4 linked regions of the Homo sapiens genome follow. The protein of the gene in region 1 purifies or fractionates together with the protein of each later gene. This does not show direct contact. Each region holds a gene or a part of one and is shown on either strand. Other genes may lie near its edges.

Region 1 (3,947 bases):
TGCGAATGGCCGAAAGCCTTTGTCTCTCCCCATGCCTCTGGTGGAGCTGTCTGCCATTTTCACCCTGAATCTCCGTGACTCTCTCTTGGCCTGTTTCTTTTTCTTTTTCTTTTTCAGGTGGCTTCACTCTTTTGTCCAAGCTGGAGTGCAGCGGCATGATCTCGGCTCACTGCAACCTCCGCCCCCATATGGGTTCAAGCGATTCTCCTGCATCAGCCTCCCAAGTAGCTGGGATTACAGGTGCACCCCACCACATCTGGCTAAGTTTTGTATTTTTAATAGAGACAGGATTTCACCATGTTGGCCAGGCTGGTCTTGAGCTTCTGACCTCAGGTGATCCACCTGCCTCAGCCTCCCAAAGTGCTGGGATTACAGGCTTGGGCCACCACACCTGGCCAGCCTGTTTCCTTCTCTGAGTTTTTCTGCTTTTCATTCAGCCATTTCTCAGTTTTTTGTTTTTGTTTTGTGTTGAGACAGAGTCGAGCTCTGTCGCCCAGGCTGGAGTGCAGTGGCGTGATCTCAGCTCACTGCAAAACCTCTGCCTCCCAAGTTCAAGTGAGTCTCCTGCCTCTGCCCCCCAACTAACTGGGATTCCAGGTATGTGCCACCACGCCTAGCTAATTTTAGTTTAGTTTTTTTTTTTTTTTTTCTGAGACAGAGGGACTTCCTCTGTCGCCCAGGCTGGAGTGCAGTGGCGTAATCTCAGCTCACTGCAACCTCTGCCTCCCGGGTTCTAAGCGATTTATCTGCTTCAGCCTCTGGAGTAGCTAGGATTACAGGTGCCCGCCACCACACCCGGCTAATTTTTATACTTTTAGCAGAGACGAGGTTTCACCATATTGGTCAGGCTGGTCTTGAACTCCTGACCTCAGGTGATCCACCCGCCTCGGCCTCCCAAAGTGCTGGGATTACAGGCGTGAGCCACCGCACCTGGCCATCCCTCACCTTTCACTTGCAGAAAGCAGTATCATGAAATGGTTATTAATTGCTATTCTGATCCCAGAGTGCCAGGGCTTCAGTACCCAAGAGGCTGAGTGACCCTGGGCACTTAGTCTATGTTTGTGGAATGAATTCATTCCTTCCACAGAGACAGTGGGGGTGATAATGCCGGCCAGGTGCTGTGGATCCGTCCTGTCTGTCCCCTGCTGTGTTTGTGGAAGTCCCTGCTTCCCTGGGTCTCTGTCCTTCCACCTCTTGGGGCAGAATAATCCACCTTTTTCTGTCTCTGTGTCTCTGGCAAGCATTCATTTAGCACTGGCTCCATGACTGCAGTGCTGGGAGATGTCAGGGACACAGCGATGATTAAGTCAGCCCCAGCCTTGCCCTCAGGGTGCCCCTGGTTCAGAAGCATCCAGACAGTATCAAACTCAAAAGCAGACAGAGGACTGGGCATGGTGGCTCACACTTGTAATTCCAGCACTTTGTTGAGGCCAAGGTGGGCAGATTGCTTGAACTCAGGACTTTGAGACCAGCCTGGGCAACATGATGAAATCCTGTTTCTACCAAAAAACACAAAAATTGGCTGGGCGTGGTGGCTCACGCCTGTAATCCCAGCACTTTGGGAGGCTGAGGCAGGTGGATCACAAGGTCAGGAGTTTGAGACCAGCCTGGCCAACATGGCGAAACTCCATCTCTACTAAAAATACAAAAATTAGCCGGGCATGGGTGGCGGGCACCTGTATTCCCAGCTACTCAGGAGGCTGAGGCAGGAGAATCGCTTGAACCCGGGAGGCGGAGGCAGTGAACCAAGATCATGCCATCATCACCCCGTCTCTGATAAGTACAAAAAAAAAATTAGCTGGGCGTGGTGGCGCATCCCTGTAATCCCAGCAACTCGGGAGGCTGAGGCAGGATAATCACTTGAACCCAGGAGGCGGAGTTGCAGTGAGCTGAGATTGTGCCACTGCACTCAAGCCTGGGTAACAGAATGAAACTCCGTCTCAAAAATAATAATAATAATAATTTTAAAAAATTAAAAAAAAAATCTAGGGCTGGAAGAAGCTGGGAAAAAGACAAGGAACTAGGGACGCAGCCACCCTAGACGACCCCTACTCACCTTGACCCTGAAGGGGCAGCGGGTCTGGTCCACCAGCATGATGTTCTCAGGCTTGAGATCAGCGTGGATGATAGCCAGCTCCTTGAGCCGGGCCAGGGCTGTGAGCACCTGCAGGGTGACTGTACGGATGTGGCGGGCGGGGAGGGGCGCGAAGTTGTTCTCCTTCTGGAACTCGAAAAGGTTTTGCTCCAGCAGCTCAAAGACCAGGTAGAACTTGAGGGCGTCATGGAAGAACTCAAGGAAGCGGATGACGTGGGCCTCTTCAGGGTCTAGGCCTCGCATGCAGTGCAGCAGCTTCAGCTCGTTCTTGATGATGCGGTTGCGGTAGGCGTCATTCTTGAGGATCTTGATGGCCACCATCTCGCCCGTGCTCCGCCGCCAGCCCTTGGCTACCTCCCCGAAGGTCCCCTTGCCCAAGACCTCGATGATGTCGTAGCAGTCAGTCTCCGACTGGATGGTGGACATGGTGCCGCTGCTGCCAGACACCGCCCTGCCCAGGCCCCTGTACCACTGGCTCTGCCGCCCAGGCCTCCCGCCTGGCTGCTGACACAGCAGGCCCCCCAGTGGGGGAAAGAGAACCGCACTCGTGTCTCCTCCTATGAGGTTGGCCCCTGCTTCCCTGGCACCCCCAAACCCCCAGGCCACACTGTCAGTCTGCCAGGGGCTGCACCCCTCCCCAGAAACCCTCCTGGCTTGGGATGAGGGGCCCCAGGCCCCACCGAATGGGTTCCAGCGCTGTTGAGTGGCTCTGGTTCTGTTGTTGGAGACCTGAGCCCTGGCTGGAGTGGGGGTGGGGTACCAGGCTGGGCCCCCTCCCCCGCCCAGTGGCGGAATCTTGCAAAGACCAAACAGGTGAAGTGTTGACAGAGGGGGGTCTAATCGTGGGCCTTGGGCATACAGGAATGGGGATAAGGCAGGAGTGAGGAAAGGTGGGCTTCTTGAGCTTGGGAGATGTGATGTGTGTGTGTCTGTGTTCAGAAAACTCCTGTCCCAGTCTGTGGCTACTGTGGGGTGAGGTTGTAAAAGGCCCTGAATGCCAGGCTAAGGAGTTTGGATTCTGTTCTGAGGGCACTGGGGAGCCACAGAAGGGCTTTGAGCAGGGGAGGGCAGGGTCAGATATGAGTGTCAGAAAGTTACTGTATGAAAAGGGATAGGTTGGAGCGGGTAAGAGTGGAAGCCCCAAGCCAGGGAAAGAGTCCAGGACAGGGCACAGATGGGAGAGGTTGGGGAGGAGAGGGCGAGGCCAATGGATGAGACACTCAAAAGGCCAGGAGAAGCAGCCGTGAGACCGACGGTTTGAGGGAAAGGCGGGAGCTGTCTAAGAACGGGCCTAGGGCTCTGGGATGAAGGGGCAGTCCCCGAGAAATGGACATGGATAAGAAGCAGCTTGGGGGAGATGTTGAGGCCAAATTAGAAAATGTATTTATTTTTGGCTGGGTGCGGTGGGTCACGCCTGTAATCCCAGCACTTTGGGAGGCCAAGGAAGGCAGATCATAAGGTCAGGAGATCGAGACCATCCTGGCTAACACGGTGAAACTCTGTCTCTACTAAAAATACTAAAAATTAGCCAGGCATAGTGGAGGGCGCCTGTAGTCCCAGCTACTCGGGAGGCTAAGGCAGAAGAATAGCTTGAACCCGGGAGGTGGAGGTTGCAGTGAGCCGAGATTGCACCACTGCACTCCAGCCTGGGTGACAGAGCGAGACTCCATCTCAAAAAAAAAAAAAAAGTGTTCATTTTTATTTATCTTTTTAATTTTTTGTAGAAATGGGGTCTCACTATGTTGTCCAGGCTGGTCTCAAGTGATCCTCCTGGCCTCAAGTGATCCTCCTGCCTCAACCTTCCAAAGTGCTGGGATTGTAGACATGAGCCACCACTCCAGCCAGATTAGAA
Region 2 (3,500 bases), on another chromosome or scaffold:
AACCTTAAAACAAAACCAATTTGCTATTATCTGTTTTACTTCATTGCCAAATGTCTCCTGTGTTTGCCTGAATGGCCTAAGTAATTGTCCCTTCCTTATTTTATTTTGTTAGTGTGGACCTGGAAAGTGTCAAGATGCTAGGTGCTAGGCAGTAGAGCTCAGTGGTTAACAGCATGAAATCAGAAGCTAGACTGCTGAATTTACTGCATGATTTCACCAGTTCTGAGGTACTTCAAAAGCCTCTTGAATCCTTACCTTCCCTGCTCTGCAAATAATAGGTCACCATATCAAGCTCTTAGAACAGTAAATACCATCTAAGTGCTAATTATTATGACTTGCTCTTACTTAAAACCCTTCTTAGGAATGACAAGGTTGCTTTCTGGCAGTGCAGGTACATTTCCTACTCAGAGCAAGCCTAGATGCAAACCATTATAGAACCACGCTGAAGATTTTAAACCATCACTATTTGCTTGTTCACAGCAGACTGTGATTTGAGCTTCCTGCCTTACCTGGGGTTCACCTGGCTGACTGGGATGTTGAGGCGGGCAGCAATGTCTTCCACGGTCTCATTGCCTTCTGAGATGATGCCCACACCTTTGGCAATAGCTTTAGCTGTGATTGGATGGTCTCCTGTGACCATGATGACCTGTAATAAACAAGACAATGTGTTGAATGCAACTGCCAAGTAAATGACCTTAAAGTCTTATATCCAGTAGGCAAGAGTAAATACTAAGGATGATTCGGCTTAGACTATCAAAAGGAAAGGAATGCAAATATAAAACTAATAAACATCGATTAGCCAAAAATATAAACATATATATCCACAGAAAGGAAACACAAAGGCAATACTCAGGTTTTATCTTGGTATACAATCACTAGCATACACAATGTCTATTTTTCCTTCTACAGAGTTACATAAAAATACTTGAAAATTACTAAAACCAGCAAAAAAAAAAAAAAAAAAAAAGGATAAAAATCTGATGCTGGTGGGACTGTGAAGACACCACATGCTACTGGCTAGCATTCTCAAATTGGCACAACTTGGAGGAAAAGCAACATGTGACAAGAATTCAAAATTGTTATTTTTTGATGCAGTGATTATACTTAGAATATACTTTAAAAAGAAGCAGTCGGAATGGTGAGGAAATAACTTCTACAAAGCTTTTCAGGGCAGTATTAATCCTGAGAGTAGGCCGGGTGTGGTGGCTCACGCTTGTAACCCCAGCACTTTGGGAGGCTGAGGTGGGCAGATCACCTGAGGTCAGGAGTTTGAGACCAGCCTGGCCAACGTGGCGAAACCCTATCTTTACTTAAAAATACAAAAATTAGCTGGGCGTGGTAGCGGGTGCCTGTAATTCCAGCTACTTGGGAGGCTGGGGCAGGAGAATTGCTTGAACCTGGGAGGCGGAGGTTGCAGTGAGCCGAGATCGTGCTATGACATTCCAGCCTGGGCAATAGAGCAAGACTCTGTCTCAAAAAATAAATAAAATAAAATCCTGAGAGTAAAAAACAGAAACCAAATACCCAGCAACAGGATATTAGTGCACTTGAGTAATATTCAGCTACTTAAAAAAAGACAGATACACAGAGGACACCAAACACTCATTAACAAACAGTTAACTGAAAACACAGAAGATATGCCATTCATTGCATAAGGTACATTAACTTAGAATAATGCAAGTATTTTAAAACTTCAAGTCTTTTGCTGTTTTTACTTTGCTTACATTTCTTTTTTACACAATTGCTTTCCAAAAAATTTTTAATTCCTCGTGTGTTTACACCATCATATTTTAATACTATCTGGTCTTTTCTGGGTGGAAGTAAAGCTTTGGAGATGAGAAATTAATACTCCAGGTGAGATAGAACAGCTGGCCATCTGGACCTCAAAAGGCAACATTCACTGAGTAGGGTGTCCCAAGGCACTAAGAGATGAAGCCAAGGAGGCGCCTGGGCACTACCTTAATTCCAGCACTTCGACATTTGCCCACGGCATCAGGAACGGCCGCCCGTGGAGGGTCAATCATGGAGATGAGCCCAACAAAGCACAGATTATCGATAGGGAAATTCACATCGTCAGTGTCAAACTGGAACCCTTCAGGAAACTGTTCATCTGGCAGAAAGAGGTGGCAGAAACCTGCGAGGAGGACAGGAGCCTTTGAAAATTTCAGTGACGCTGGGCAGTAAGAAGGACAACAGCAGCCTATTCAGCCCGCCTACCTTTCTCTGGAGTGTTTACTTTGGAAAATTTTTAAAGTCTATATTTTTATAACAGAGTGAGGGTTTTATTTAACATTTATGAACGATAGAGTCACTGAAAGAAAAAAAGCATTTGAAAGACAGAATCCATCACACCAGGCCTCAAAGGAATTGGAAATTGTTTAATGTGGAGAAGACTGAATTGATAACACTAATTTTGAGCACCAGGATATTAGGGTTCTAGACTTGCCCACTGATGATGACATTAAGTTATTTGGATTTGGCAAATCATGGAATTATCTGCCTCAGCTGCCTTCTCTGGAAACATCAAGGCCATACCTCTGCTCTCTTGTTCATTTAACTGAAACATATTACTGAGCACCAATGTGGGACATCATGCTAGCTACTTTTGAGGATAAGTACAGATCAGATGCATTCTGCCCAGGGGGTTTATCATCTAGTATAGTAAATACAAGAATCAAGATAATGTAAGACATTCTTTTCAATGTTGTATGACGTTACAATGATCTTTAACGTGCCATGTGGACTCAAAAGAAGAGAGACTGCTTCCACTTTGGGGTGGTGGAAGTAGGGAAGTGAAAAACACTTAAAGAGAAGATAGCAATCCTTCGGTTGGATAGACACATACGAAAGATACCATGAGTTAGATTTACCCAAGTTAAGAAGAATAGGAAGCATTATATAAATAATGAATGTAGTATCTGTCAACCTACAAAGTATTATAAATGCCACTTTCCCAAATACATTAGACAATGGGTAAAGTGAACTTCTCAGCCTCAGTAGCTGTCAGGGTAGAAAAAAATAGGTAGCATCTTAGACTAAAAGTTTACCGTTAGTCTAGTTTCTAAGCTGAGCACATAAGTGCTCATGTAAATTCACACCCATTCCAAGGCAGTCAGGAAATAGTATGTCTAACTTAGACACACTAAGAATTAATTAACTTTAATTAGGCTTATAAGTCATGTCCACAGCAACAAAGGTTAGATAAGAAAGATATTCTTCCACCATTTTTTTTTTTAAACAAACAGAACTGACTAGCATGAGACCAAAGGTCTAAGTACAAGTCAGAAGCAAACCATCAGGACGTTGTTTCTCACAGCCCAATACGCTGAACATTTCTTCAGCACTTATTGTTTTCAAAATAATAGGGGGCAAATAAACAAATAGGAGGATTGCCCCTAAAAGATGTAGAGGAAGGTCAACAAGACATAGAGGTTCATAGGATCACTTGTTAACTGTCTACCAGACTAGGTTACTGGATAAAAACGTGCCCAGGCACTCTG
Region 3 (3,500 bases), about 25 Mb from region 1:
AGCACAACCCCTACCGCCCCAGCTACAGCTACGACTATGAGTTCGACCTGGGGTCCGACCGCAATGGCAGCTTTGGGGGGCAGTACAGTGAATGCCGAGACCCAGCCCGGGAGCGGGGCTCCCTTGATGGCTTCATGCGGGGCCGGGGCCAGGGCCGCTTCCAGGACCGGAGCAACCCTGGCACCTTCATGCGCAGCGACCCCTTCGTGCCCCCCGCTGCGTCCTCTGAGCCCCTGTCCACGCCCTGGAACGAGCTGAACTACGTGGGTGGACGGGGCCTGGGAGGGCCCTCCCCCAGCCGGCCACCTCCGTCCCTCTTCTCCCAGTCCATGGCTCCCGACTACGGCGTGATGGGCATGCAGGGGGCGGGCGGCTATGACAGCACCATGCCCTACGGATGTGGCCGCTCGCAGCCTCGGATGCGGGATCGGGATCGGGTAAGCCCTCGCAAGGTTCCTTCCGGCCGCCTTCGCTTCTCTTTTTAGCAGCTTTATTGAGGTAAAATTTCCCCATCTCAACATTCACTTAAATGTTTTTAAGTGCGCAGTTCGACTTTTAGTTAATTTACAGGATTGTGCAACCATCCCCACCATCACAGTCTAATCTTAGCATTTATGTCAACCAGAAGAGAAACTTCTTCTCATTAGTCACCCCTGTCTCTTCCCCGCCCCCACCAGCCCCCGACAACCACCACTGGTCTCTGGATTTGTGTGTTCTAGACATTTTGCACAAATGGAGTCGCGAAACGTGTGGCCTTTTGTTCCTGGCTTCTTTTCACTCAGCATGATTTTCTTTTTAGTTTCAAATTATGTTGTCTCTTTGCTTTTTGAAAAGACCTTTTGTGCCTGTGTTGTCTGATCCTACAACCTCCTTGTTCTTTTCTGTGGGGCATCTTCATGGCCCTCGTAAGTAGCTCATGGGGTGTGCTTGTTGTCTGTAGCCCAAGAGGAGAGGGTTTGACCGCTTCGGACCAGATGGCACGGGCAGGAAACGGAAGCAGTTCCAACTTTACGAGGAGCCAGACACCAAACTGGCCCGGGTTGACAGTGAAGGAGATTTCTCCGAAAATGGTATGTCCTGGGGGCCAGGTGGGCCAGACAGATGTAGGATGGGTCGGCTGCCTGCTGGGGGCTCTGCTTGCCCCATCTGTGTCGTGGACACTCGCAGGTGGCATGTTTCAACCCCACTGTGGTCAGGGCAGACTCACCCTGGATGGCGAGCTTGGGAGGGCGGAAACCGGATGGGACCGTTCTCCGGGGACTGACTTTTCCTTTCTTTGTGTCTGGCAGATGACGCAGCTGGTGACTTCCGCTCAGGAGATGAAGAATTCAAGGGTGTAAGTCCACCAGGCAGCCCTTTTGCCTCTAGTGTGGGATTTCTTCTTTCTTTAATCACCCTTCCTCACAAAGGGGCAGGAGCAGCTGCCATGGTAGATTTGACTACCTCTGAGTGGATTCAGGACCCTGACTTTTAGCTAGATTTCTAAAAGTTTTCCACCTTAGCCGGCACGGTGGCTCACACCTGTAATCCTAGCACTTAGGGAGGCTCAGGTGGGTGGATCACTTGAGGTCGAGAGTTGGAGACCAGCCTGGCCAACATGGTGAAACCCCGTCTCGATTAAAAATACAAAAATTAGCCAGGAGTGGTGGCACTTGCCTGTAGTAGCAGCTACTTGGGAGGCTGAGGGAGGAGGATCACTTGAACCTGGGAGGTGGAGGTTGCAGTGAGCTGACGTTGCATCACTGCACCCCAGCCTGGGCGACAGAGGGAGACTCCGTCTCAAAAAAAAAAAAAAAGTTTTCAACTTACAACAAACATTCCTTTTCTGAAAAAAGCTCCCAGTTCCTCTCCCTGGTCTCTAGGCCAGTAAGTGCAGGGACTGTGGGCTGAAGCCTCCAAGCACAGGCTGGAGGCTCATTTGCCGCCAGCTCCGTGCCGGGTGCCGCTGACTGGTGTCCTCATCCTTCCATCCTCACAACAAGGCACAGGCAGGCAGCACGTGGGGCCAGTTCATAGCCGGGACCACCCCAAGCTCTTGGGGAGGTGCCTCAGCCACCCCAGTGTAGATTCTGATCCAAGTTGGAGGTGTAGGGCCTGGAGGTCCAGAGTGGGAAGGAGGGCCTTCCCCAAGTCCTTAGAGTCACACAGGCAGGGAACAGGCAGGAGATGGTGGCTTTTCAGGTTTTCAGAGTCTCACTTGATCCCTATTTTGCTGGTCTTGAGATTAGGAATCTCTGTAAACCTGCTGATTGTTAATTTAGCCGTATGTTCACTGCCTAAGGAGTCAGCTCTGTTCAGATTCTCAGTTGAATCGTTTTTATCTATACGTGATTGTTATTAAGACATCGGGTAAATATAGGCCTGGCGCGGTGGCTCACACCTGTAATCCCAGCACTTTGGGAGGCCAAGGCGGGTGGATCACGAGGTCACAAGATTGAGACCATCCTGGCCAATATGGTGAAACCCCGTCTCTACTGAAAATACAAAAATTAGCTGGATGTGGCGGCATGCGCCTATAGTCCCAGCTACTCGGGAGGCTGAGGCAGAGGATTTGCTTCAACCCAGGAAGCAGAGGTTGCAGTGAGCTGAGATTGCATCATTGCACTCCAGCCTGGGAGACAGGGCGAGACTCCGTCTCAAAAAAAAAAAAAAAAAAAAAAAAGACATTGGGTAAATATAAACAAAAGCTCGGGAAACGTGGTGGAACCCATTTTCTATGAAGAATGCCAGAACTGGCATCCCCCAAGTGAGACTCTATCTCCCTACGGTTGGTGAACAGGCTCCATTCATAGAATTGTACGGGTGGGTCTTTGTCATGGGGCAGGCAGTTCTGCAGCTTAGGAGGAACCGAGAGAGGGTGGGTGAATGGCTTTTTAGCAAGGTGATTGTCACAGAATCTCTGAAGGCAACTAGGAGTAATAACAGGACACACAGGCCCTGTCCTGAGCCCCGGAGGCTGGTCCTAACACACTGTGGCTCATTCTTGGTGGCATAGCAACCTAGGTCTTGGGTGAGACTGCCCACCAGGCAGTGGCCAGGGACTGGGCTGGTTGTGGAGAGTCTGGACACACCAGCTCACTGCCGGACTTTGTGTATACTCTTTTCCAGGAGGATGAACTCTGCGACTCTGGGAGGCAAAGAGGTAGGCATCACCGTGTCCCTTGCAGCTTTCCTGTGTCTTCCCAGCTGCCCCGCACTTACTGCCCAGCTTCTGAGCAAGCCAGGGGCCTGGATGGAGGGGCCCGTGGCTGTGGGGGAAGAGGGGCTGCAGCCACCAGATGGGCCTTGACCGTGGCGATCAGCCAACACTTTGCTTCAAAGTGTCTGGGGCAGCATTTACTGGAAACGGGTCTGTCTGCCTGACCCGATGTGGGCTGCAGTGGGGATGGGGGGCAGCCTTGGGTGTCCACCACAGTCGAAGTTTGTAGGGAAGGAGAAACATGAGAGAAGAGGCCCCCAGCCCATCTTCTGTGCCCTCCTCGGCCAGTGCATTTCCCTGA
Region 4 (3,500 bases), 4.2 Mb from region 1:
AAATGAATTTGATTACTATTGAAGTAAGTAATGCATTTCTGTGATTCAACAAAGATCTATCTCACAGAGATATCTCATTCTGCTCCCTTCCCCCAGTCACATTCTTCTTTGTCTTATGTAAACATGTCTTGTTTTTTTTTGTTTGCTTCTTGTTTATCCTTCAAGTGGGTTTTTTGTTTTTTGTTCTGTCACTATTATATATTTCTCTTCACTCCTGTTTCCCTCCACCTTACATAAAAGATAGCATACCACATGCACCTCCCTATATCTCACTTTCTTTAATAACAGTATGTCCTAGAGATAGCCCTTCCTTTTTTCTTTCTTTTTTTTTTTTTTTTTTTTTTGAAATAGTCTCGCTCTGTCACCCAAGCTGGTGTGCAATGGTGTTAACATGGCATACTGCAGCCTCCAACTGCTGGGCTGAAGTGATCTTCCTGCCTCAGCCGCCTGTGTAGCTGGGACCACAGGCACACTCCACCACACCTGGCTTTTTTACTTTTTGTAGAGATGAGGTCTCACTGTTTCCCAGATTGGTCTCGAACTCCTGAGCTCAAGCAGTCCTCCTCTCTTGGCTTCCCAAAGTGTTGGGATTACAAGTGTGAGCCACTGCACCCAGCCAAGGTGTTCCTTCTTAATCATAATCTTTAAAAGAAATTTTTTTTTCAGCTGCTGTATAAATAAGATGTCATTATTTGGATGCACCATGGTTGATTCAGTTAATCCCGTTGTTGAGCATTTGGATTGTTTCCAGTCTTCTGCTGTTGCTAACAATGCAGTAATGAATAATTTTTTTATGTGCGCCATTTTATACTGACACAGGAGTAGCTCTAAACTAGACTGCTATTAATACAAATGGCGCTGCCCAGTGGGTAAGTACTTACACTCCCACAAGCCATGTGCGAGAGCGTCTTCCCCTTAAACTCACCATGAGTGTAGTGTCGAATATTTGGTATTTCGCTAGGGACATAAGAGACAATCTGAACTTCAGTGTAGGTTTCATTTACATCCCTTCTTATGAATGAGAATTTTTTTTTATATGTTTAAAGGCCTGTATGTATTAATCTAGGAACTGTCTATTCATATCCTTTTCACCATTTTTCTATGGGGTGTCTTCTCCTTAGAGGAGCTGTTTATAAATTAGAAAGGTTAGCCCTGTATGAAATGAGTGGTGGCTTTTTTTTTTTTTTTTTTTGAAGTTTTCATTTGCATTTGGACATTGTTCACAGTGGTTTCTTTTTTTTTTAATCTTGCAGAAATAAGAGGTTTTGTTTTAATTTAGTAATAATAGTTTCTTTTTTTACATAGCCGTGCTTAGAATGAGCCCCCTGTGGTTGGTGAGCACAGAGACATCCCCGCACCACACCAAAGACCTTTTTATTCATGTATTTTTTAGAGGCACAGTCTCACTGTGTTGCACAGGCTGGCCTTGAACCCCTGGGCCCAAGCAAGTCTCAGACTCCCAAGTAGCGGGGACTACAGGCAGTGCACCACCATGCTGCTATGGTTTTCTTTTTATTTTCAAAACTTTTGGCTGGGCGCGATGGCTCACGCCTGTAATCCCAGCACTTTGGGAGGCTGAGGCGGGTAGATCACTTGAGGTCAGGAGTTTGAGACTAGCCCGGTCAACATGGTGAAACCCCGTCTCTACTAAAAATACAAAAAATTTAGCCAGTCATTGTGGTGCACGAGATCACACCACTGCACTTTAGCCTGGGCAACAGAGTGAGACTCCGTCTCAAAAAAAAAAAAAAATCTAGTTACATTTTTTTCTTTTTGAGATGGAGTATCTCTCCGTCCCCCAGGCTGGAATGCAGTGGTGCGATTTCGGCTCACTGCAAGCTCCGCCTCCCGGGTTCACGCCATTCTCCTGCCTCAGCCTCCCAAGTAGCTGGGACTACAGGCGCATGCCACCACGCCTGGTTAATTTTTTCGTATTTTTAGTAGAGACGGGGTTTCACCATGTTAGCCAGGATGGTCTCGATCTCCTGACCTCGTGATCCGCCCGCCTCGGCCCTCCAAAGTGCTGGGATTACAGGCGTGAGCCACCGCGCGTGGCTGATTCATCAGTCTTTTATGGTTATCAGACTTTTCCACTCTTAAGTTTCACCGATATTTTCAAATTCTTATAAAGTTACAGTTTTTTGTTGTTTGATTGTTTTAGAGTTGGATCTTGATCTGTCACCCAGGCTGGGGTGCAGTGGCGTGATCACAGCTGACTGCAGCCTTCATATCCTCGCTAATTTAAAAAAAAAAAAATTGTAGAGATAAGATCTCCCTGTGTTGCCCAGGCTGGTCTCAAACTCCTGGGCCCAAGTGATCCTGCTACCTTGGCTTCCCAAGTCAGAGCAATAGTTTTTTTAAGATTTTGTTTTTATTTTAATTTATAATCCATTTAGATTTTATCCTGGTGTATGCTATCAGATATGCATCCAGCTTTACCTTTTTCCAATTGGCTACCACGTTCTTTGACATCATTTATTAAAAGGTCTTACCTGGCTGGGCACGGTGGCTCACGCCTGCAATCCCAGCACTTTGCAAGGCCAAGGTGGGTGGATCACTTGAGGTCAGGAGTTCGAGACCAGCCTGGCCAATATGGAGAAACCCTGTCTCTACTAAAAATACAAAACATTAGCTGGGTGTGGTGGCACATGCCTGAATCCCAGCTATTCGGAGGCTGAGACAGGAGAATCGCTTGAACATAGGAGGGCGGAGGTTGCAGTGAGCTGAGATTGTGCCACTGCACTGCAGCCTGGGCAACAAGAGCCAAACTCCATCTCACACACATTAAAAAAAGGTCTTATGTTTACTATTTTTAGGATGCCACTTTGATTATATACTAAATTCTCACATTTATTTGGTCTGTTTCTGGGTGTGAGCAGAAAGACTGAGGACACTGCTATAGCCCAGGTGTAACAACCAGGGAAAATATTTATCTTTTTACTATTGAGGCTTTATCATTGTGTTTTACTTTGTGGTATAGCTAGTCTCTTAATTGCTCGTCCTTTTCAGTGTTTCCTGGCTATTCTTGCCTGTTTATTTTTCTTTGTAAATTTTAGGATTAGCTTGTCTCGTTCCAGAGGGGGAAAAGGTAGAACTAGTTTGTTACTTTTATTGGGATTGCATTAAATTTATAAAATAACTTGGGAATAGGGACATTTTTATGACATTAAATATTCCTCTTTATGTACGTGATACGTATTCTCGTTTCTTTTTGGGTCCTCTAGGGTGTTTTAAAATTTTTTTCATACAGGTTTGGACACTTCTTACTAAGTTTATTTCTGGATGTTTTGTTTTATGTTGCTATGAATGGAGTCATTGTTGGCATATATGAAGCTGTTGATTTCTACATACTAATATTATTCCCTGCTTTCCTTAGTTATTTGTAATTAGATTATATAATTGAGGCAGTAGGCATCCTTGTCTGTTTAGAATCTAATAGAAATGCCTTCAGTGTTTTTCTATTACTTTTATTATCATGATTTGCTTTTCAGTGTTTTTAC

What was found. The genes of interacting proteins can lie anywhere in the genome.
Region 2: the proteins of HIPK4 (region 1) and ATP1A1 purify together in Homo sapiens (affinity purification with mass spectrometry; one large-scale study listed by BioGRID and IntAct). This does not show direct contact.
Region 3: the proteins of HIPK4 (region 1) and AKAP8 purify together in Homo sapiens (affinity purification with mass spectrometry; one large-scale study listed by BioGRID and IntAct). This does not show direct contact.
Region 4: the proteins of HIPK4 (region 1) and ZNF146 purify together in Homo sapiens (affinity purification with mass spectrometry, with the first as the bait; one large-scale study listed by BioGRID). This does not show direct contact.

What each region holds. Positions count from the first base shown.
Region 1 is NC_000019.10:40,387,382-40,391,328, forward strand, and holds the start of HIPK4 (homeodomain-interacting protein kinase 4), read right to left. Parts: upstream 2,801-3,947; 5' UTR 2,522-2,800; coding exon 2,057-2,521; intron 1-2,056. UniProt on the Homo sapiens protein: Protein kinase that phosphorylates human TP53 at Ser-9, and thus induces TP53 repression of BIRC5 promoter. May act as a corepressor of transcription factors.
Region 2 is NC_000001.11:116,393,744-116,397,243, reverse strand, and holds part of ATP1A1 (sodium/potassium-transporting ATPase subunit alpha-1), read right to left. Parts: intron 2,135-3,500; coding exon 1,959-2,134; intron 647-1,958; coding exon 510-646; intron 1-509. UniProt on the Homo sapiens protein: This is the catalytic component of the active enzyme, which catalyzes the hydrolysis of ATP coupled with the exchange of sodium and potassium ions across the plasma membrane.
Region 3 is NC_000019.10:15,369,788-15,373,287, reverse strand, and holds part of AKAP8 (A-kinase anchor protein 8), read left to right. Parts: coding exon 1-437; intron 438-940; coding exon 941-1,070; intron 1,071-1,289; coding exon 1,290-1,336; intron 1,337-3,108; coding exon 3,109-3,142; intron 3,143-3,500. UniProt on the Homo sapiens protein: Anchoring protein that mediates the subcellular compartmentation of cAMP-dependent protein kinase (PKA type II).
Region 4 is NC_000019.10:36,221,606-36,225,105, forward strand, and holds part of ZNF146 (zinc finger protein OZF), read left to right. Parts: intron 1-3,500.